Linked DNA regions of Homo sapiens: all the other regions are reported to be linked to region 2. Evidence: microRNA targets listed by miRTarBase, many of them from high-throughput screens and not tested one by one. Region 2 holds a microRNA gene; each other region holds the end of a gene's coding sequence.
The links. Region 2 holds the annotated microRNA hsa-miR-499b-5p (ACAGACUUGCUGUGAUGUUCA, at 1,460-1,480, shown strand). A microRNA usually pairs through its seed, bases 2 to 8, with sites in the 3' UTR of a target mRNA and lowers its output. Matches are read on the target gene's strand: a 7mer-m8 pairs with bases 2 to 8, a 7mer-A1 pairs with bases 2 to 7 and ends in A, and an 8mer does both.

Region 1 (4,504 bases), not on the chromosome of region 2:
TTAAATGGACAATTCCAATACAGTTCTATTAGAACCCCTTCTATTAATATTGTAGACATTTAACAGATGTCTTAATTAGACATTATAGCTAAGAAATGCAAACTAAATTAAAGCTAAAGCCATTGTCCAGAAAGCGAGCTTTTTTACCAGAATTTACGGCTTTGTGGAGGGATGTTCCTGTTTACTCTTTGGAACCTGGGAGATCAGTCATTTGATGATCTTTCCCAGCCTCCAGAAAACGTTGGCCTGAGAGTCCCAAGTCTGAAATCACAGTCCAGACCTCAGAGCTGGAAGAGACTTTAGACACCATCTGGAGCCCAGCGTCCTCAAACATCAGTGATCAGCTGGGGTCTTAGGTAAACACACAGCTATCTGGGTCCCGCCGCCAGAGGCTGATTCAGTAGGTCTGAGGTGCAGCCCAGGGTCTGGCTGCTCTGAATGTGCACCCACTAACTCTGATATGGGAAGTTCCAGGATGCCATTCCAGGAACGCTGGGTCTAGTCTAATGGCCCCACTTGACAGATGGCGGCACCAAGGTCCCCAAGACTTCAGAACTGCGTGAATGGATCAGCAGAACTCCACCTCCTGCCCCATGGATTAGGGCTTTTCCAGCATCTCTGCCATCTCTCCACTCCTGGCAGCCATATACCCCTTCCGGCCTCTCCTCCTGCCTGCCTGAGCCCAGGGGGCAGACCCTCGCAGGCTTCCCCTGCCTTCCTGGGTCCTCCACAATGCTTCTGCGGGCTCCTGCCCTGAGCCTTGGTGTGAATACACTCTTCACACCCACAGCTGCCTAGAGCCGGAGCCCCTGCTCCAGGGAGACTTCTCTGCCCATCCTGCCCACCTGCACACGCATTTCCTCCCCCATCCAGACTGTGCCTGGCCCCAGCGGGAGGAGGAGTTCAGCTGTTTGCAAAAGTGAAGGGGAACTGGGCAGCTCAGGGGCCCCGGGTACTGGAGGGAGCAGCCCTGGACCCAAGTTCCTGTATGAGCATGTCACAGAATCCAGTGGTGATGGCAGCTCAGGGGCCAGCATTGGGGCTGGCTGGACTGGCTAGTGGTCCAAGCAGCCCATATGGGGGAAAGAGAAGGCCTGGCTAGTGTCTGAGGTTGGGAGTCAGGTAGCTGTTGGAGTCTTTCTGGGAGGCACAACCAGGCTGTCCTGGCTGGGAAAGCTTCGGGGTGGCTGTGGACTGACTTGGGTCTCCAAATTCATATGATAAAGCCCTTGCCCCCACTGTGACTGTCTGGAGACTTTCACGAGTTCATAAGAACACGGCCTGATCCAATAGGACTGGCGTCCTTCTACAAGGAAAAGACCCGAGGGATCACTTTCCTTGCACACAGGGAGGAAAGGCCATGTGAGGACAAGAAGGGAGAGGCCTCTCCAGAAACCAGCCCTGCCAGCACCTTGATCTTTGGCTTCCAGCCTCAAGAGCTGTGAGAAAATGCTGCAGCCCCAGTGTGTGGCATTTTGTTATGAAGATTAGAGCAGATGGATACATCAGCCATGGCCCACGCTGTCCTTTCGCTGTCCTTTCTCCTCCAAGAACCTCATCCTTTCCCCCGAGGCTCTGGCCTATCCTCTGCAGACCCTGTGTGGCAGCTGGGCACTGGGAAGATGTAAAGGGCCCCTGGGCCCCACTCTTTGAGCAGTGGGTCGCTGGGCTGATGTCTCCCAGTCCTGCAGCCTCTGGGTCCTGTCCTGAGTTGCTAACCACTCTCTCCTCTTTGGCACTTTCTCTGGTGCATGGAGGCTTACACAAGTCGAATGTGGCTCTGTCTCCCGTGGGACCACATGGCCAAGGCCTCAGCTCTGCCAGGGTCCTGCTCCTTGGACAGTGGACATGGGAGAGATCGGGCCAAAAAGCACCACATTACCCTCCATGACAAGCTGTGCCGCAGCCTGTGGAGACATGGCAGCCCTGGCCCCTGCCACGGCCCCTGGGCCTCAGATCATGCTTTCTGCAGCTGTTCCTCATCAGGAACCATGTCCCGCCCAGCTGGGCCCTCCCCTTTCCCTCCTCTACCTGGGAGATATGACCCCTGGGTGGGCCATGAGGGCAACAGTGTATCCTAGAAACAGGCAGGCACAGCGGCAGCTTAGTGGCCGGTGAGCACCCTCACCATGTCTCCTTGGGGGAGAGGGAGAGGTATCTACAAATTAAACCGCCACTCACACAGAAACTTGAGTCTGAGCTAAATGAAAAACAGATTTCACATGGCAAGTGGTACCTACAACTTTTCTGGAAAGCAACTGTGTATTTACACAACAGTGGACGCCTTTTACATTGCAGAGGGGCGGGTAAGAGCGGGATGGCTAGGAAGCTACAGCACCTATTTGGTTATGAACACAGCATTTTCAGATGGCTGGGGGAATAGATGCCACTTCCCACTCAAGACAGGGATTTGCTCAGCGGGAAAGCAGGTAATAAAGGCAGCACATCCTGCACTTTGAACTGCATCCGTCTCATCCTGCAGCCACCCTGTAGCTCAAAGCACAGTTCTGGAGCCTATTAGGTCCAAATCTCAATCTACCCTTGAGTCAGCGAGGCCTTAGGCAAGAGGTCCCTCGAAGTCTGTCTTCCTGTGGCAGATGAGGACGGCCACACCACAAGGCAGTCGCTGGGCCGGGGCCCGTGTCCGAGGTGGCAGTGTGCTTGGGCTCCATGTGCCTAGCCCGTGCGTGTGTTCATCACTGGCAGCGGTGACTGCGTGCTGCTTGGGGGAGAGCACTTGAGCTGCCTCAGAACACCCTGGTGAGCGGAGGACACTTGCATGGATGGAAGCAGGACCGAGGCACCGTGTTGGTCCCTGTGAGACTCTGGGTGCACTGAGCTTTGGGGAGGGGTGGTGGCACAGACCTGGGCCTTTCTACTCTCCTGGCACACAGCAGTCAGCGCTCCCACTTCCCTTCTCCACTACGGTGTTTCTCTCTGGTGTGGTTTGGGTGGAAGTTACCAGAAACGCAAAGCCCTGGCACTGCTACTTCTCCTGGGGGAGAACAGATTTGTGGCCTGCCTTTCGCCAGGAGGGCTCCTGGCCTTGCCTTGCTGATCGGCAGAGACTTGCTCCTCAAAGGGAAGGGGTAGTTGGTCCTTCTGAGCCATGTTTCCAACCCATCTGGTAGGCTGGTCCCCTGCCCCGCTCTCACTGCAGCCCTGGGCCCGCTTTTCCTCTGGCCCTGCATGGAAGGGCCTGACCCACTGGCTTTACAGACACATGGTCACAGAGGGCCAGGGTCAGACTGAAAAGCCAAGTCTTTCAGCAGCAAAAATGGCGAAGATATCAAAGGGCGTCAATGCTGCTGGCTTGGCTTTTGCAGCAGGTCTCACCTCGGGAGGTGATGCCGGGCGACCTCCTTTCAGTCCTCCATGGCTCAGCCTGGCAGCTCAGGAGTGGGCATGCTGCGGCAGGTCCCATCTCACTACGCTGGGGCAACCATGCATGGGCACAGCTGCATGCAGTACTCTGCTCCTGGGGTCCACCCCAGCTATGATTCCTGAAGTGAATAAACCCTAAGTCACTTAGCAACTCACCCTTCAATCCTCTTCAACCTTCCTGAAATAGCAAAGTAAACCTTAGGTGGGTCAGAGTTCCACCCAAAGGCGAGCCTCTGTAGACACCTGCCATCCAATGGACCTTTGGGGACCCCCCTTCCCTTTCAACCTGGCTGGACTGCAGCAATACCTCCTTTATTTGATCCCTGTTTATGTCCACATATGTACTGTATTATCACAGATGCAACTGATTTATCATAGAGCACTCAGAAAACATGGAAAAGTATTTTTAAAAATCGAATAATCCTATTCAAGTCAACCAGTGTTAACCCCGGTGTGCTTCCTGCCAGTCTGTTCCTCCCCATGGGAGTCACACAAAATGAAAATCTCCTAGAAAGAGAAATTCCTCTGTCCTCTGACTTCTTCACTTAGTACGCTGCGACCTTCCCATGTTGTTCAACATCCTCAACTCGGAGCGTCACTGGCTGGAGGTGGTCTATAAATGGAATTGGCTTAACTATCTCTTCACTGAAAGGTGGACATTTAGGGAGTGTCCAGTTTTCAGCTGTCATAAACAACTGCCTTAGACGGCAAAGAATTCACAGGTCAATCGTTCCCTTCGCTTTGAACTTCTTCGCAGACCGTTCACTTGACCGAAGCTGGAATTTGCTCCCGTAAATGTAGGAAATAAAGCCATCGGTTTCCACAGTGAACACGCAGTTTAGCTTGGGGATAACTGAAAAAAAAAAAAAAAAAGGCAGGAGAAAAAAAGATGAGGAAAAATATTTATTAATATTTTACTTTTAGGTAGAATATTATTCAGAACACATTGAATGAAAAAAATAAGCTAATAGGAAACGGGAAACCCACAAGGGGAGGGGCATTAGGGTTGCCTGTGGTTATTCTGCCACAGGTCAATCTAGTCACATGCTAAATGTAGCTTGGCACCTAATCTTCAGGGTCAAAGGCTATACACCAAATTCCCAGAACCAGAAAGTCCCAG
Region 2 (4,504 bases):
AGAAAAACGGATGACGATGGCAGGCATACGCCTGGGGATAAGGAACGATCTCCAGGCCAGACTGTTAGAAAAAACAAGGTCACAGCACCATGCGTGTGTGTGCGTGTATGGTATCTGTGTGAACCTCTGTTTACAAAGGATAGTGTGGATGACACCATGACTTCTGGAGGGAGAAGGAACGATGGATGCTTGTTGCCCATTGAGGGAACGGGGAGGAGCTGGCAGCACTGCCCAGGTGCTTGCTATGTGCCAGGTGTCTCATGAAGCCTCGTCCACATGATTCTCGTTCAACTCCCAAATCTGCATCCTTTCTGCCCGCTGCCCTGAGCTCCAGATTGATAATCCCAATCTCCCCCATGACTTTTCTAGGATGTCTGCTGGAGGCATTTCAAACCTGATACACGCAAAACAGAGCTCAAACCAGTATCCCTTCACCTCTCCTCCAAATCAAAAAACCCTGTTTTTGTAGCTCAGTAAATCTACCACTGGTAGCTCCCAGGTTGCTCACTCCCAAAACTAGAAATCATTCGTCTTTTCTGCATCCAGAATTCCATGTCCAGCTTATCAGCGAGGCCTGTAGGCTCCACCTCCACTATTTGCCCCAAGCCTATTCACTTCTCCCCAAGTCCCCGGCCAGGTCTGAGCCACCCCCATGTCTTGCTGGGATACCTGGCCAGGCCCCTCACAGTCCCTGCTTCCCCCTCCAGACAGGGGACCGTCTGTTGGGCTCTGATATGTGTGTCCTGCCCAGCCCCTCAGGCCTCCACCTGGAGCAGCAGGCAGGGGGAAGGGGTCACCCACCGCTGCCGGAAGTCGGTGTAGAGCAACCTGTTGGGGAACCCTTGGCGGCAGATCCGGATCCCCTCCAGGACCCCATTGCAGCGCAGCTGGTGTAGCACCAAGAAGGCATCCATGACCCCTGGACGTGAGAGGGGAAAAGGTCAGAGGTCAACAGGCACACCCGCAGGCCCCAGAGAAAAAGCAGCAGTGGAGACCCTGCGAGGTGAGGGGGAAGATGTACTCAGCCTCCCGGCCTCTGCCCTGTCACCTTCCCATGATGCCTCCCGGCCCCAGCCAGGCCAGCCCTGGGTGACTACCTGGGGTTTTGTTCTCGTTGGGGACAATGCAGCGGACGAAGTGGGGCTGTGTGGCCCGCAGGTTGGTCATCAGCTTGTTGAGGTTCTCCTGGCAGTGGGGAAGAGTGAGGGAAAGGCACAAAGGGGGCAGAGAACCAGAATTGGATGCCGCAGTGGTCAGGACCGAGACGGGAGCAGGGCCCTAAGTGCCCTGCACTTTTGCTCTTTCACTCTCATTCTGGTGATGGGAGACCCTTCGCTGTCTCCCATCACCACCACCAAAGTCTTCACTTCCCTGCCAAATCCCCGTCCCTCCCAGAGCCCCAGGGCTCCCACCCCTTCCCCACAAACCCTGCCCAGGCAGCGTAGGGACGGGAAGCAGCACAGACTTGCTGTGATGTTCACGTGGAGAGGAGTTAAACATCACTGCAAGTCTTAACAGCCGCCCGCCCAAGGCACAGGGGACAGGGCAGGGGGTGAAGGACGGGGCTGGAGGCTGCCAAGAGGGAGGGTCTGTCTCCCAGATGGGGCCTTACCTTGTGCAGCTGGGACACCGTCTGGAACGATGCTGCCTTCTTACGCTTCTCTTTCACCCCAGACTTGGGGGGCTCAGCTAATAGAGACAAGGGGCCTGGTCACTCCAGGGAATGTCGCTCTGTGGGCCCCTGTCAGAGTGGAGATCTTGTCCCTCCATACTCACTGGAGCAGGAGCCCGCATAATTCTCATAGAGAGTCGCCAGGAGCCTATTCTGTGACTTCTGGAAGATGGGGACCACGGTCTCATTCAGGGGATCCTTGTTTTTCTCCAGCCAGCCCACAATGCTGTAAGGCACCTGGAGAGACAAGTCAGGTGCTGAGCCCGGGTGGGAGACCTGGAGCAGGGCGGGAGGAGCCTGGCCGAGGGCTGGGGTTCCAGCAAGCACCTACCACGCCTGCGTAGTGGACCACCTCGAAGTGGGCCTGGTACTTGCGCTTCTTGTCAGGCCGAGGCTGCTGGAAATTGGGTGACTTCCCCGCGTGGTTGTCGTAGAGCTTGGCCCGGAAGCTGGCGTCTGAGGCCTTGGGGAACATGCATTCCTCCTCCAGGATGGACAGGATGCCCAGTGGCTGGGAACAGAACGAGCTTGAAAAGCCACCATCAAGCCAGTCCATCCTGGAAGGACTGAACCCCTGGTTCCCCAGGCCACCTCCCTTCTGGGAGCCTTCCCAGATCCCCAGCTTCAGCCATCTCCCCGGATGGTCAGACACCACACCCACTCCAAGAACCCATCTCCTAACAGAGAAAAGTTTGTGGCTTGGCTCCAGTCCCCTCCTGCAAAATCTGCAGCACTGAGGTGTCATCTTCACTTCTAACAATGGCAAACCCAAGCTGGCATCTCTGTACCCACTCTCACCCCCGCCACAGCCATGGCTGTCACACACAAACATGGGGTAAGTCAAAAAAAGCCATCAAGTTCACATTTTGGCTTCCTCACTCACTAGCTGTGGGGCCCTCCGACATCACTAAGCCTCAGTCTTCTAACCTGCAGAGTGGGAAGATGAATGTCTTCAGTGCTGACATAATATTTAAAAAGCTGTCAATCACCTAAACGCCCAGCTGTAGGGGACTGCAGAAATGCATCGTATGAAACTCATCCACTGCATGAACTACTCTTGCCATGAGCAGCATTCAAAATACATTTTCAGAGAAAAAGTAGGATATGAAATGAAATCTGTGTCTATAAAAGAAAATGGATAGGCCAGGCGCAGTGGCCCACGCCTGTAATCCCAGCACTTTAGGAGGCCAAGGTGGGTAGATCACTTGAGGTCAGGAGTTCGAGACCAGCCTGGCCAAAATGGTGAAGCCATGTCTCTATTAAAAATACAAAAATTAGCTAGGTGTGGTGGCGCATGCCTGTAATCCCAGCTACTTGGGAGGTTGAGGCATAAGAATTGCTTGAACCCTGGAGGCGAAGGTTGCAGTGAGCTGAGATGGTGCCATTGTACTCCAGCCTGGGCGACAGAGTGAGACTCCATCTCAAAAAAAAAAAAAAAAAAAAAGGGATAAAGGATTTCGAGGAAATGAACCTAAGTGTCATGTGACTGGCTGTGATAGGAATGGGGAGAAACATTTTTTCCCCTGCCAATTTTTCAAATTTTCTTTCTTCCATTCTTTGTACAATGGGTAAATATACATAATGTTCCACAATCACAAAAACAAGGAAACACACCCTGCCCTGCACCCAGGGCAGTTCTAGGGATCCAGTGAAATTGTGGCTGCAAATAGGGCCTTGTGAGCTGCAGAATTCTGAGCACCCAGGAGGAGCTGTTGTCCACAGTACTGGGATGCATGCATTCACACTGCTCACACACTCACCAAGGCTCACTCATGGTCAACTCCAACACACCCACTCACACACGTGCCCTTTCACACACAAGCACATAAACGCTGTCACAACTACACTCACATGCATGCTTACTGCAACGCACAGTCACACGCTTCCATGCACACTTGCAGGCTTCCATGCAAGCCATGGTCATCCATCCCTGCTTGCTCACCACACACACCCTCCCTTCCTCAAAGTGACCTTGCCGCGGCACCCACCTTCTCGATGAGGTCGATGCAAGGCTGCAGGTCAAGGCCGAAGTCGATGAAGACCCAGTCGATGCCCTCCCGCTTGTACTCCTCCTGCTCCAGCACAAACATGTGCTGGTTGAAGAACTGCTGCAATTTCTCATTGGTGAAGTTGATGCACAGCTGTTCGAAGCTGTTGAACTACAAGAGGGAGGGGCCTGGCTCAGCAGACCTCTCGCAGATGGGGAAAGGGAGGCCCGGGGAGGGGCATGAGTTCACCCCCAACTTCCAGGCAGAAGGCCAGGGCTTCTGCCCCCCCACAGGCCCATGTCCTCTACCTTGGAGAGAACAGAGGCCAAGGTGAGGGCCTGTCCTCACCTCAAAGATCTCAAACCCAGCGATGTCCAGAACCCCGATGAAGAACTGCCGGGGCAGCTTTGTGTCCAGGGTCTGGTTGATCCGAGACACCAGCCACCTGAACAGCCGGTCATAGGTGGCCTTGGCCAGAGCCCCCACAGCAAACACCACCTGGAGGTGCAGGGAGGCTGGGCTGGGACCTGGCAAGGAGGGGACCCTGCCCGGCTGTCCCCCATGGGTTTGGCCTGCAGGCAGCTCACCTGCTCCACACTCTGGCCCTTGGTCACGTACTCGTTCCCTACACGCACCCGGGGGTGCAAAAGGCCTTTGAGGAGGTCCCCACTGCTGACCCCCATCAGGTAGGCAGCCTTGTCAGCACCTGGCAGGGCACGAGTGGGGTAAGGGAGGAGGACACCACCATGCGCACTCAGGGGCTCTACTGCCTCAGCCTGGGGCTAGGAGAGGGAAGTTAAGAGGGGTCAAGTTCAGGGCTAGCAAACAAAGCCTCAGGAGGGTA
Region 3 (4,504 bases), not on the chromosome of region 2:
TTCCTATTCAGATTGACCTTGATAATTCAAAATAAGACAATTACTGAGGTTTCACAGTAGCTTTAGTAACAGGGCTTTGTAAAGAAAATGGTTCCATGTTCTGTAGAATTTTAGAAAAGCACTTTATCTGGTTATAGCAATTTGTTCTCCCTAGTATGGCTGACTTTTCGTCGCCAATCCTATGCAGTCTCATAACTTTAGAAAGGATTATAATTTCCCTTTTTTTTTTTTGACTCTGGTATCCTTTTTAGATGATGAAAGTTGTTCAAGTTTATGCAGACACACAAGAGATTAATTTGAAGGTAAGCTTTTCAGACCATGCAAACTTGGTGAAGGAATATGCATTACCAATAGGTGAATATTCCTATCTTTTGCTTGCAGGCTGATTCAGAAGTAGCTCAGGCAGGGAAAGCAGTTGCATTGTACTTTGAAGATAAACTCACAGAGATCTACTCAGACAGGACCTTCGCACCTTTGCCAGAGTTTGAGCAGGAAGAGGATGATGGTGAGGTAACTGAGGACTCTGATGAAGACTTTATACAGCCCCGCAGAAAACGCCTAAAGTCAGATGAGAGACCAGTACATATAAAGTAAAATGACATGGATTTAAATCAATTGTTTAAAAAAAAAAAAACGAAAAAAAAAAAAAAAACACAAAAAACCCAGAAAACTTTTAAGTGTTGCTGGAATATCCTGCCTACAGTGGGCACCTCCTTGAAGAAGCTGATAGCTTTTACACAGTATTAGATTGAAATAATGGACAGAAACACATTCTTGTCAAGAAAGGGGGAGAGAAGTCTGTTTGCAAGTTTCAAAGCAAAAAGCAAAAGTGAAATGATTTGAGGATTTCTGTTCTAATGGAGATGATTCTCTGATTGTTAGAAATGGCAAATATTGATGATTGTGTGCTATTGATTGGTGCAGGATACTTGGTATACGAGTAAATACTTGAGACTCGTGTCACTTGATAAATTTTCTTTTTGGACTAGGTCGCACAGTTATTAAAACAACTTTTAACCCTCCCCCTTCACACACATACATATCAGGTTGTTTTCTAGTTAAAAACCCAAGTAGCTCAGATTCTACTTTAATGTCAGTGCAGATTTGCATTGAATCATGCCATTATGTTTTTTCTCATTTTTATGCTGTTGGGTCTTAGTTTTTAAATTGATATAAAGAACTCAGCAATGGTTTTATTTTCTACTCATACTTAGGGTTTAGGAAACACTACCACTAGTTATCATTTAATCAACTTCAATGGTCTACTGAAACAAAAATGGTAACTTTTCATTAGTGGATTATTTAGAGTTATAGTAGTTGTTTCCAGAAAACACTTCCTCACAATTGTACTTCCCAATCAAATCATGTGATCATACAGTTATTCCCATGAAAGGCAGAATGTTTGTTTCAAAATTAATCTAGTTTTCTGTACATTTAAATTTGAGAAGGTGACAACTGGCTCTTTTCCAGTCTTCCTTCATGTCAGTTTTCTGATAGACCACTATTGGCAAACAGTATCTGTCAACTACCAAATGTGTAAAATTTTCTGTATTTCACTTTGTCTTATTTGTAAATAGTGAACTAAAACTTTTGGCAGATCAGCAACATTTGCTGAGCCTGTTTTTTAAGCTAATGTGTATTCTTACTAATGTTCCTATCAAGAATGGATTTGTAATATATGCTGTCTATTTCTAATGTTCACATTCATATTTTGAGGTTCTATCTTATTTTAATAGAGAACAGACTTCTCAAAAAATCTTCAGAAGCAGCTTATTATTGAAATATCGAAATATTGAAATAAACCCGGTGGGGTTAGATTACTCATCTGTCCACCAAGTGGGACATTTGCATGGACTGGGGGCTTAAAGGACTTAGAAGAGACCTGTAAGTAAATCCTGAAAATGAGCCAATCCCCACTTGAATGGTTACTGGAGTAAACCCACCTTTACCACCCCAATTACAGCACCCGAGGCCGATAAACCAACTTGGCTCTGGTTCATTTTTCTTTTCTTCATTTGTGATGCTCAGATTCAAAATGTGTGTTCTACACTGTTACAGGCTTCTCTTTTGTTTGATTAAAGATTTTAGTCCTACTTTTGTATGGACACATTAGAATATTCAGAGACCAAAATAGAAGAATTTGCTGTTAGATATTTTTCAGAAGTCAGCAGATTTGTGGCAAATCATTTATTTGCCTTTTTAAAAATTCATTTAAGCAGTTCAGAGAGTAGACTACTCAGAAAATTATTTCACGTAATTGTCTAAGAGGTCAATATTTTTTAATGCATATTGAATCAAATAAAGTGCTCTAAAGAAATTATTATACAAATTCCTTTGGGTTGTTTTTCTTTTCTTAACAAGGGGTGGGGGTAAACAGGAATATGATTCAGGCTTTCTGGTTGTGTATTTAAAGAGTATTGATTTTATTATTACTATTGATTTACTTTATTCCTGGCTTCCTTTTCACTTTTCTTTCAATTTTTAAAAAATAATTTAAGCCGTTGAAAATATACCAAACTGTTGAAACATTTTACTCAAATTTTAAATTCCTAAAAATGTTTTTTAATAAGAGGGAGAAAATTATTTAAAAATACTTATGCCTATGCCAATTTCCCTCTTTTTTCACAAAATCCATGATTTCAGTTTGTAAGTAGACATATATCTAAGGGCACATTTTTGGAAAGTGAGGAATAGCAGCAGTATAACTTCATTTTGTCAGGCCTTTGAGTTCTAATATTTTGTATTGCTCTTCAAATGGATCCTTTTAAAAAAATTGTAGATAATGAGTCATAAATAGATTCTGCCAACTGAGGGGAGAAACATTTTAAGTAAATATTTTTCAGTATTTGGGGCCTTAAAAAATAATTGTGTTTCCTTAAAATTACATGTTAGATAGAGTTTTTAGGTTTTTTTGGTTTTAAGATTGGTTAAAGCAATTTAAAAGCCACTTTTTTGTCAACATTTAATAGCCTCCACTTCTGTTAAGATAATGTATACTGCTGAGGAATTACTATTAATAGCTATCAACATACCACCATTAAATTAAGGTATTCACTTTAGATTTTTTATTAAAGCTTTTTTCTTGCACACTGATCGTTGTGTTTCTAAGCTGATTTTTTCAGCTCTAATATACCTATGGTTAAAAAGTATAAAAACTTAAATTGATATTTAGATATATGTTTTCCTATTAGTTTATGTTTTAAAAAGACAAAATTGTATCTGTCAGTCCCTGAAGGCAGTTTGTTTTTATACTCTCTCACATTTGTATTTGTTTTTTAAATGGCAGTATTTTAGAAGATTTGGAGAAAAGTCCACATAATAATGTTTTCTTAAAAGCTTTTAAAGTTTTTGCTGTACTTCAATTTACTTCTTCCATCAGAAAACTAAGAACAAAGTGTTGCTCAGTCTGTTCCGCTGACCTAAATTTGTGTTTTCAGCACTTGGCTCAGCCAATTCACTGAGTGAAGGAATTGCTTTATGAGGCAAAGCATGTGAAAGTTCTAAAGTATGGTTAGATTGTAGGTCGTGCTCTATATGGAAACATCAAACCATTACTACAGAGAAATGATAAGGCATTGGATCCACTATTGAAATTATTATTTTTGGATCAACAAGTTGGTACTTTCTGACTTCTGTATCTTAACATAAGGGAATTTTAGGTAATGCTAAGTCAGTTGTCTCATTTTTTGTGATAAGTTTTGGAATTTTTAGTTAATTGAAATAAATAATGCTTTTAAATAGAAGTAAAAGGTTTATAAGTGTGCAAATTGTAGATTTATCAATTACCTCAGCAGGTATCCTGCCATGTAATTATTAGTGATTAGTGTTAATAAGATAATAGATTCAGGTCTTCCAACTATGCCCTTGGATTGTGGCCTACTGTATGTTATTAAATGGTCTCTTACTATCCAAAATGGGAGTAGATGCTGTGGCCCCGTCTCCCTTGGCTTTTACGTCCCATATCCACCCCCATTCATGTACAACATGTGAAATATAAAAATCTCATTTCTTGTCAAAATCAGCACTGCTTATTTGCATACTCAGCATCGGATCAGTGAGTAGTTTTATAAAAAATCCACGCACCCAACTCCCTTAGTTAAAACAGATTCTTAATTCATACCATGAATTCTTAATTTCTGTACCATCTATGTTAATGATCTGCTGAAGGTGACTCAAGATTTTCAAGGTGTAATACAGTTTGATCATGTACCGGACCTGGATATTTAATTTTTTTTCCCTCACAGTTAATCTCCTCCTTGATAAAGCAATAACACTGCTTTGAGTCTGTTGCCTAATAGCATGTCAGAATCCTCTCCTGGATGGTGATTTTATAGGAAAGTTTGTATGCATATCACCCAGTCTATCTTTTAAAAATTAAGAAATTTAAATGTATGCTGGAAGTAATGACACTATATTGTGGCATTTTATTTTAAAAATTGGGGAAAGTTGCATATTTTTTTAAAAGTAAGTGTTTGAGTAAAAAAATTGAAGGTACTTTTTTAAG
Region 4 (4,504 bases), not on the chromosome of region 2:
TTAGAGGGGAATGCTCTCCAGGGTCCCATTTTGCAAAAAGACTATGTACAGTTAGAAAATCAATGGGAAACCCCCCCAGAGGATTTACAGACAGATTTAGCAAAACTGGTAGATCAGCAGAACCCCACTCTGGGAGAGACACCTGAGAACTCCAACTTGGAAGAACCTCTCAACCCTAAACCCCACAAGAAAAAGAGTCCAGGAGAGAAACCTCACCGATGTCCTCAGTGTGGAAAATGTTTTGCTCGGAAGTCACAACTTACTGGGCATCAGAGAATTCATTCAGGAGAAGAACCTCACAAATGCCCTGAATGTGGGAAAAGATTCCTTCGTAGTTCAGACCTTTATAGACACCAACGACTTCATACAGGGGAGAGACCCTATGAATGCACTGTATGTAAAAAGCGATTCACTCGGCGGTCACATCTTATAGGGCACCAGAGAACCCATTCTGAAGAAGAAACATATAAATGTCTTGAGTGTGGGAAAAGTTTTTGTCATGGATCAAGTCTTAAAAGACATCTGAAAACTCATACAGGTGAAAAACCTCATAGATGTCATAATTGTGGGAAAAGTTTTAGTCGACTGACAGCTCTTACTTTGCACCAGAGAACGCATACTGAAGAGAGACCTTTTAAATGTAATTATTGTGGGAAAAGTTTTAGACAGAGACCAAGCCTCGTTATTCATTTAAGAATCCACACAGGGGAGAAGCCATACAAGTGTACTCATTGTTCTAAAAGCTTCAGACAGAGAGCCGGCCTTATTATGCACCAGGTCACTCACTTTAGAGGACTTATTTAAGAATTGCTAAGGGAAACAGGTCTTACACAAATTGACACTAACTCAAAAAAAATCTTAACCTGCAGCAGGCTGTTTGTCTTGGAAGCTTTTGTTTGAGCTTATAAGAACATAGACAGCTTTTTTTTTTACTAGTTTTAAAACCCATCTTCCAAGGTATATGAATTCTAGAGTATTTATCTACTCCTGTGATTTTCTTAGATTTGATTTCTTCTGTCTGCACAACTCTTCTTTTTTTAATTACAATGAAAAATTTTGTGTTCCAAGGCAACTGTATCATAGGTGTAAACATAAAGCATATAAATTATGACAATCCTTTTAGAGGTAGGGTCAATATAGTGGATAAACCTGTCTATCAGACGTATTGATTATAGCAGTACTATAGTTATTCTGCTGTCATTATTAAAGATGATTATATTCATTCAAAGCTTTAGATGTGTCCCATGTGGCAAGAAAGGAGACAGTGAATTTTGTCAAACAATAAAAATGTGTCAGGAACACAAGGATGAAGGGGATGTCATTTGCCTGGTAAGAACTGGGTTATTTCCACTGAAATTTGTTATGTTTAAGGAAATTAAGATTTTAAGCTTGAAATTATACAAGCAGAATCTAATTTAATTTTGATTGACTGAAGAACCAGGGTCTTTTGCTCTCCTTTGGTATTTCACTCTCCTTTGGTATTCAATCATGTGTCTTTTAGTGCTTTTTAAAATTTTACCCATTCTTTAATTCAGCATCTCCCTATGTATGTGTCATAGAATACTTAGTTCTGCTAGATATTCTGCAAATATATTTGGGAATTACTTCCTGCTGTTTCGCCTTCTTAGGTTCATAGTACACATCAGCATATGAGAATCTCTGAGAGGTCCTCTAGAAAGGAGAGAAAAAGCACCTCTTTTGGCTCAATGTTTTCCAAACTTATTTGACCCCAAAACCTTTTTCATATACCCAATAATAAGCTACAGAACTAATATTCTGCAAATGTCTCTTGGAACACACTGCCTTAAACAGATATTTCTATAGCTGTCAGTATAGTTATGTTGCTCCCAAGCCTAGTTATCTCCAGTTGTTTTAAGGGTGTTATGAAAAATTCTTAAAATATATATGAATTTGTGTAACACACACAGAGACACACACACATACTACTTTAAGGGGGTGAGGATCATTAATTCAGATAATTTTTAAGTTTCCTAGTGATTCTCAATCTCTTTGAATTTTACTTACATTTACACACACACGCACACACATATGTATATACACATATCATTTTAAGAAGCTGAGGATCACTAATTCAGATAATGTATAAGTTTCCCAGTGATTCTCAACCTCTTTGAATTTTACTTATAATTACATACACACACACACTGCTACTTATATAAATGTTCTCATGTAATCATGGTAACAGCTCAAATTCCCAAAGCAAGGGAAGACTTCTCATTGTCAGTTAAACCTGTTAAAACATGAAAATATTCATTGAGCCTAGTTCCTTGTTATAAAATACAAGAAATAAGACATTCAGGCATTTTCCCTTTATGAAGATGTTCAGTCATCCTTTCCTTGAACTACAATTAGGAAAAGTATATGTCTTTATTCCATTGAAGTTCTCGAGAGTGATATAAATACTTTGGGGGGTATCTACTATGTGCCTAACTAGTCCTGTTCTAGGCTTAGTGGAAGCTAGTAAAGAAATATAATTCATGGATCAGGCTCATAAAGATTTTATAATATTTTTAGTTAAACAAGAGTTGGGAAACAGGTGGAGAATAATGCAAGAGAGTTTGTAATTAAGTGCCAATTATACCAATTGCTAGACCCAGGATGTATCTTTAATTCTTGTCATCCAGGTCAACATATGATGCTGCTATAAGTCTGGGGCTCAAATTGATATCCCAGTAGCAATAAACATATAATATAGGAGGAGTCTGAATGTAGAGATGAAAAATACAGAATGTAATGGCTTCTCTTTTCTCTCTTGTGGAATTGCATTCAAACCAGAACAGTGCCTTAGAATGGATGTGCCCAACTGCTCTGTATTTATGCAATATTTGAATAAAGCGGAAATGTATGTGCTCTTCCTGCTTCACTTGCACTAATTAATTATTTGAACAACTTAGAGCTTCTTCCCTGAACAGTGGCAACAAGCATGGCAATTGACTCTGTCCTCATCCCAAGTTGGAATCGCTTTTCTCTCTGCAACCATGGCACTGTGATTATGCATCATTTTTAGCATTTAATACAGTCCATTTTTGGCTAGTAGGGTTAGTTGCAATCATAATATGAGTTGCATCCTCCCTCTCATTTATATCAAATATACTTGACTAGATTTTTACAAGTTAGAGAATGTCTAATATTCTTTGTTACAGTGCCCTATATATAAGAATAAATATTTCTGGTATTGAATCAAGAAACACATGAAATAGTTCTTGGAAACAGATAACATATTTAGAACATTGCATGGATAATTATACTTCTATGTCTAATTGTACTTCTGAGCATTTCAAAAAGATAAGGGCAAAATACAGTACCTACCTCCTAGCTATTATAAAGGGGAAATTACAGTACCTACCTCAAAAGTACTATGAAGATTAAATGAAATATATTTTGCTCTGGCCCTACACACTGTAAGCTTTCAATAAATATCCCCGTATTATATTCTCATTTTTGTAGTTTAATGATAAAAGCATTTAAAGCTATAGATTTCTTCTCTTTATGGCTTTGGACATACTTCATAGCTTTTATATGTAATGTTCTTATTGATGATTTCAAAATGGTTGTTGTTTTCATTATAATTCCTCTTTGACTTAAGAGATATACAATGTTGCCATTTTCCTCTTAATTTTTGGTTTTGCTACATTGTGATTAGAGAACAAGTTTCATTCTATTTCTGCTTTGAAAGCTCATTTAGGCTTTTTTAAAGACCTACATTTTATAAAATTTGTTAAGTATCCTAAAACCTTAGAAAATAAGGGCTCTATAGGGTGCAAATTTAGAATAGAGCCTTGGACCGCTCAATTACTTTAATGTCTTTAGGCGTATTCTTGGTGTTTGTGAAGGGTTGGTGACATCAAGATCGAATTGCTCCCCATTCTGCCTCCCTGAACCTTTGTACTCCCCCTTCCCTTGGTAAGTTTTTTCCACCACCTTTGGTCTGTTCTGTGGATGTTATACAGCAATTGTTAGTAGCTGCCTGGGCATTGAGGCAGGCAGTTAAAACAGGAAGCTAAAGGACCTAGGGGAGACCGGGACTCTTCAAACCAGGCTGAGAACGCTCTCCTTCAGGATCCCATAGTTATTTGTCTTTCTGAAAGCAGAGAGAACCTGCACAGGGCACTTTGAGGTTTTTGCGACTGTGGCCCTCCTGAATTCTCAGGGATTGTTTCATAGTGTACTGAGGATGTTGTGTAGGCTAAAATCCAGAGAAATAGGGAATAAACAGGGGAACCAGCCCCCAAGCCTCCCCATGAGGTGGGGGAAGAGAGTCATTACACTTTGTCCTCTTGCACCTGCACTCACCATAGAATCCCCAAGAGAAACAGTCTTGAGCACCTCCAGAAAACTGAGTCATCTTTATTCCTATAACCCTCTCTCATTTTTAGCCTACTGATATGGGCTGAATATTCTCGTAAATAACTGAAGCTTACCCTTAAATCTGGGCCCAGCCCCCTGCTTCTTTTATAGTCCTCTGTAACAGATGTGAAATGGG
Region 5 (4,504 bases), not on the chromosome of region 2:
TTGTGGAGCTGTCTAGTACTCGGAAGCTTTCTAAGTACTCCAACCCAGTGGCTGTCATCATAACGCAACTAACCATCACCACTAAGGTCCATTCCTTACTAGAAGGCATCTCAAATTATTTTACCAAGTGGAATAAGCACATGATGGACACCAGAGACTGCCAGGTTTCCTTTACTTTTGGACCCTGTGATTATCACCAGGAAGTTTCTCTTAGGGTCCACCTGATGGAATACATTACAAAACAAGGTTTCACGATCCGCAACACCCGGGTGCATCACATGAGTGAGCGGGCCAATGAAAACACAGTGGAGCACAACTGGACTTTCTGTAGGCTAGCCCGGAAGACAGACGACTGATCTCCGACCCTGCCACAGGTTCCTGGAAAGACTCTCCAGGAAATGGAAGATACTGATTTTTTTTTTTAAATCACAGTGTGAGATATTTTTTTTCTTTTAAATAGTTGTATTTATTTGAAGGCAGTGAGGACCAGAAGGAAGTTTTGTGCTTTGGCAGACTCCTCCATGTTTTGTTCCCTTCCCCCTGAGTATGCATGTGCCTGTTCAGAGTCTCCAGATACCTTTTTTATAAAAAGAAGTCTGAAAATCATTATGGTATATAATCTACCCTTAACAGAGCTTTTCTTATTACAGTGCTAAAATGATTTCTGATAAAATGGTCCCTAACTCAACTAGAAGGCTAAAAATACAAGAATGAAAGAATAAGCAGAGTACTCATGATGCCTTTGAGAAAAATCAAAACATCATGTAGGGTGACCTAGTTTCCAAACCAATAAATAAGTAGTATTGTAATATTAAAGGAAAACTGTTCCAATCATTTAAAAGTACTTATTAAGTACTGCTTTTTACAGTTATGACAACTGTTTCTTTCTATGCATATAAATCAAGGAACCAAATATCTGTAGCCATGGAAATGTCTGACTAGAAATATTTATATTGAATTCTGAATACAAAATGTCCCTGTGGTAGAAAACTTACTCTTTATGCCTGGTGCAGTATAATTCCCAAGTGTACTGTCTACCAGAAAAAAAAAACAAAACTAATAAAAAATGAAATATGAAAATTAAGTTTGTATTTATTGATTATTATTACTTAAGGGGAGAAAATCATATTTCTTGTCTAAAATATGCATTGTTTATGTCCCAGTGTTTACTGCCCATAGCACATTTGTATTTGATTTGAGAGGACACAGTGGGATCTTAGGTTGCAGTTTATAAGAACTGTTGCGTCACTGAAACAAGGATGGATGGAATTATTAATTTTGACTAAAAGGGTGCATATTTGAACAGTGAACATACAGTTTTTCATATTTTTTCAAAAGAATTTATGTTGAAGGTTACAGATTTTACTTTAATTGCCCACAGTTCTATGACCATTATTTCAGTTTTGTGCTAAGCACAGGAACAAAATGACTTTAGCCCTTTATGCTCATGTTTTGTGGTAATCGACAAATGTATTTTGTTAACAAAGTTAAGTTTATTTCTGAAGAGAAGAAACAAACTGCAGTGAATGAATGACCTAGAACGGTTGGAGAAATGCACGTACTTGGAGAAATACACGTACTTTTATTTATTTCACTGTAGTCTTATTTTGCATAGTTCATGTGCTTCTATTTCTTGAAAGTAACTCATAGGAAGGATTATTTTAATTGTACTGAGACTTCCTACTTTGTTAGACCACAGTATAAAAGGAAGTCATGTAATTTATTCCCTATTTTCTAAGGGAAGAGTGGAGCTCTGAGGCTGTGTGCCCTGGGGCAAGCAGGCCACTCCTTTTCTCCTTCTCTCTGTGAGAATATTCTGAGGTTCTCTCTCTGCAAGGAAGATGACAACACTTCCTTATGTCTATTTTTGCCCACGTCTCTGAAAATTTATTTTAAAATGTGACAAATGACCCACATCCAGAAACCTGTAATTACCCTATTTTCACCATCTTCAAACTAAGATCCTTTGATGTTATTGACAGGTTGCTGTGGTTTCAGTAAATCAATATACGAGTACAAGGTTATCATTTTGGAAAATTATCTTGTATTTAAAATTGATTTGATAGTTACCTTAAAAAAAAAAAAGGCCCAACCAGTTACGTGTTGTTGAGCTAGCTGAGGTCAATATGAAATAAAATGATTTGGGTTGAAAACAAGTGGGGAAATAGGAATAATACTAGTTTCCAGTTTTTATTTTTATTTTATTTTTAAATGATTTTTATTTATTTATTTTTGAGACAGAGTCTCACTCTTGTCACCCAGGCTGGAGTGTAGTGGCGCGATCTTGGCTCACTGCAACCCGTGCCTCCCAGGTTCAGGTGATTCTCCTGCTTCAGCCTCCTGAGTAGCTGGGATTACAGGTGTGCGCCACCATGCCCGGCTAATTTTTGTATTTTTAGTACAGATAGGGTTTCACCATGTTGACCATGCTGGTTTTGAACTCCTGACCTCAGGTGATCCACCTGCCCTGGCCTCCCGAAGTGCTGGGTTTACAGGTATGAGCCACTGCGCCCATCCCAAGTTTTTAAAAGTTAAAAACTTATGAGGCCTCTTCCTTGTCCTGTTTACTGGAGATAAGTTTGCTTTTGGTAAATTTTCTCAAATTTACTGATTATTAACAATGAAATGATTGTTTATATGAGTAAATTAGGAAAAGTAGCCAGCTGAATTTTTTTTTTTTTTTTTTTTTTTTTTGCCATTTTACTTGTCTAGTGACATTTAGAGTGTTTTGTCTAATTGGGCAATTGAAAATGATATGAAAAATGTAGCTTCATTTTATTTGGGTAACTTGAGACAGTTATGTCTTTTAATGAAATTTTAAATCATCACTGTGGAAGAGTTGATTTTTAAAAAATGATAGTTGCATTCTTAGAGCTGTATTTTATTTAGATTACAGCAAGTATACGCACTTAGGAGGATTGTGTGTGTGCATGTATGTGTGTCCTTTTAAACCCAAGGATAAATGTGTGCGAAAAACACACTAACTAATGAGCCTATTGGCTTTTGCTAGATCTACAGCAAAATCCTTGTATTTAACCAAATAGATGCTATAAATGGACAGTGGTACGGTTTTTTTACTGTGGGAAATTTCTTTCTTTTTCTTTTTCGAGATAGGTTCTTACTCTGTTGCTCAGGCTGGAATGCAGTGATGTGATCACGGCTCACTGCAGCCTCAACCTCCTGGGCTCAGGCAATCAGCCTCCCTATAGCTGGGACCACAGGCATGTACCCCCATGCCTGGCCAGTTTTTTTTTTTTTTTTTTTTTTGAGGCGGACTCTCGCTCTGTCACCCAGGTTGGAGTGCAGTGGCGCGATCTCGGCTCACTGCATCCTCCGCCTCCCGGGTTCACACCATTCTCCTTCTTCAGCCTCCCAAGTAGCTGGGACTACAGGCGCCCACCACTACGCCTGGCTACTTTTTTTGTATTTTTAGTAGAGACGGGGTTTCACCGTGTTAGCGAGGATGGTCTCGATCTCCTGACCTCGTGATCCACCTGCCTCGGCCTCCCAAAGTGCTGGTATTACAGGCGTGAGATAGTTATTTTTGTAGAGATGGCATCTCTCTATGTTGCTCAGGCTGGTCTCGAACTTCTAGGCTCAAGTGATCCTCTCATCTTGACCTCCTAATGTGTTGGGATTACAGGCATGATCCACCACGCCCCACTGGAAATTGCAAACACATTCAGAAGTAGAGAGGATAGTGTAATGAACACTCATGTACCTGCCCATTGACCAGCTTCAACAACTGTTCACTTTGGCTTTTTTCTCCTATGGATTATTTTGAAGTAAATCACAGATATTATTTCACATATATCACTTCAGACTGTATCTAAAAGATAATGACTCTAAAACATAAATATCTAATTTAAAATTTTAATGTTGCATATATGCCATAGTACCATTATCACATGATGGTGCTGGTTGCTTCTTGAATACTGTTGGTTATTTCATAGCTTGGATCTCCAACTTTGTAAAAGTGGTCTTATATATTCCTCATAGGCAGGGTTCTCCTGTTTGTAGAAAGAAACGCATTATTAACACAGTACATTTCTGCCAGGATTAATGACTTTCACTTTCAAATTAAGTCTCTAGCTTCAAAAAGTAACATTACGTAAGATTCTTAATTTTAAAAATTATTTCTAAGACTCATTTTGTGTGAACATATGGAGAAACATTTTTTCCAAAGGGCATCCTTCCTTTTCTCATGCAGATTTTAAATTGTGGATGCAGGTGGCCAATTAAAAACACAGCTTATCACTTGCTTTTGGAATTTCATACAAATAAAAGGCTTGACTCTTTGAGGCTCTCTGAAACTGAACATTAATCACAAAGCAAGGAACCAGATAGGGATCATATAAGCAGTATTCTAGGTCCGACTAGGTTATCCTCATTATGCTGTAATTCAGTGTCTTGATTCTTTGTTTCTTAGTTCTAGTCTCATCTTTTATAATATTTACTTTGTGTGTGTGTGTGTGCCTGTCTACACTAAAACTGTAAGCTCCTC

Region 1: miRTarBase lists POP4 as a target of hsa-miR-499b-5p. Seed matches in the 3' UTR shown: 7mer-A1 at 3,244-3,250.
Region 3: the mRNA of TRIM33 is a reported target of hsa-miR-499b-5p. Seed matches in the 3' UTR shown: 7mer-m8 at 795-801.
Region 4: miRTarBase lists ZNF449 as a target of hsa-miR-499b-5p. Seed matches in the 3' UTR shown: 7mer-m8 at 2,667-2,673 and 7mer-A1 at 2,721-2,727.
Region 5: miRTarBase lists KCTD6 as a target of hsa-miR-499b-5p. Seed matches in the 3' UTR shown: 8mer at 593-600.

Annotation. Positions count from the first base shown.
Region 1 is chr19:29,614,977-29,619,480 of GRCh38, reverse strand. It overlaps POP4 (POP4 ribonuclease P/MRP subunit), which reads right to left. Exons shown (of 7, transcript NM_006627.3): 7 at 2,244-4,237. The coding sequence ends at 4,101. Among named protein-coding and RNA genes, the nearest start is that of POP4, 11 kb to the right of the region's middle.
Region 2 is chr20:34,987,419-34,991,922 of GRCh38, reverse strand. It overlaps MIR499B (microRNA 499b), which reads left to right and starts at 1,451; the gene lies at 1,451-1,523. It overlaps MYH7B (myosin heavy chain 7B), which reads right to left. Exons shown (of 45, transcript NM_020884.7): 17 at 4,248-4,366; 18 at 4,009-4,158; 19 at 3,661-3,831; 20 at 2,004-2,183; 21 at 1,777-1,909; 22 at 1,613-1,689; 23 at 1,098-1,185; 24 at 802-919. MIR499A (microRNA 499a) reads right to left here and starts at 1,547; the gene lies at 1,426-1,547.
Region 3 is chr1:114,393,738-114,398,241 of GRCh38, reverse strand. TRIM33 (tripartite motif containing 33) reads left to right here. Exons shown (of 20, transcript NM_015906.4): 19 at 252-302; 20 at 382-4,504. The coding sequence ends at 594. Among named protein-coding and RNA genes, the nearest start is that of TRIM33, 120 kb to the left of the region's middle.
Region 4 is chrX:135,360,273-135,364,776 of GRCh38, forward strand. ZNF449 (zinc finger protein 449) reads left to right here. Exons shown (of 5, transcript NM_152695.6): 5 at 1-3,141. The coding sequence ends at 804. Among named protein-coding and RNA genes, the nearest start is that of ZNF449, 18 kb to the left of the region's middle.
Region 5 is chr3:58,501,277-58,505,780 of GRCh38, forward strand. It overlaps KCTD6 (potassium channel tetramerization domain containing 6), which reads left to right. Exons shown (of 3, transcript NM_001128214.2): 3 at 1-1,080. The coding sequence ends at 356. ACOX2 (acyl-CoA oxidase 2) reads right to left here. Exons shown (of 15, transcript NM_003500.4): 15 at 3,860-4,010. The coding sequence ends at 3,948. Among named protein-coding and RNA genes, the nearest start is that of KCTD6, 11 kb to the left of the region's middle.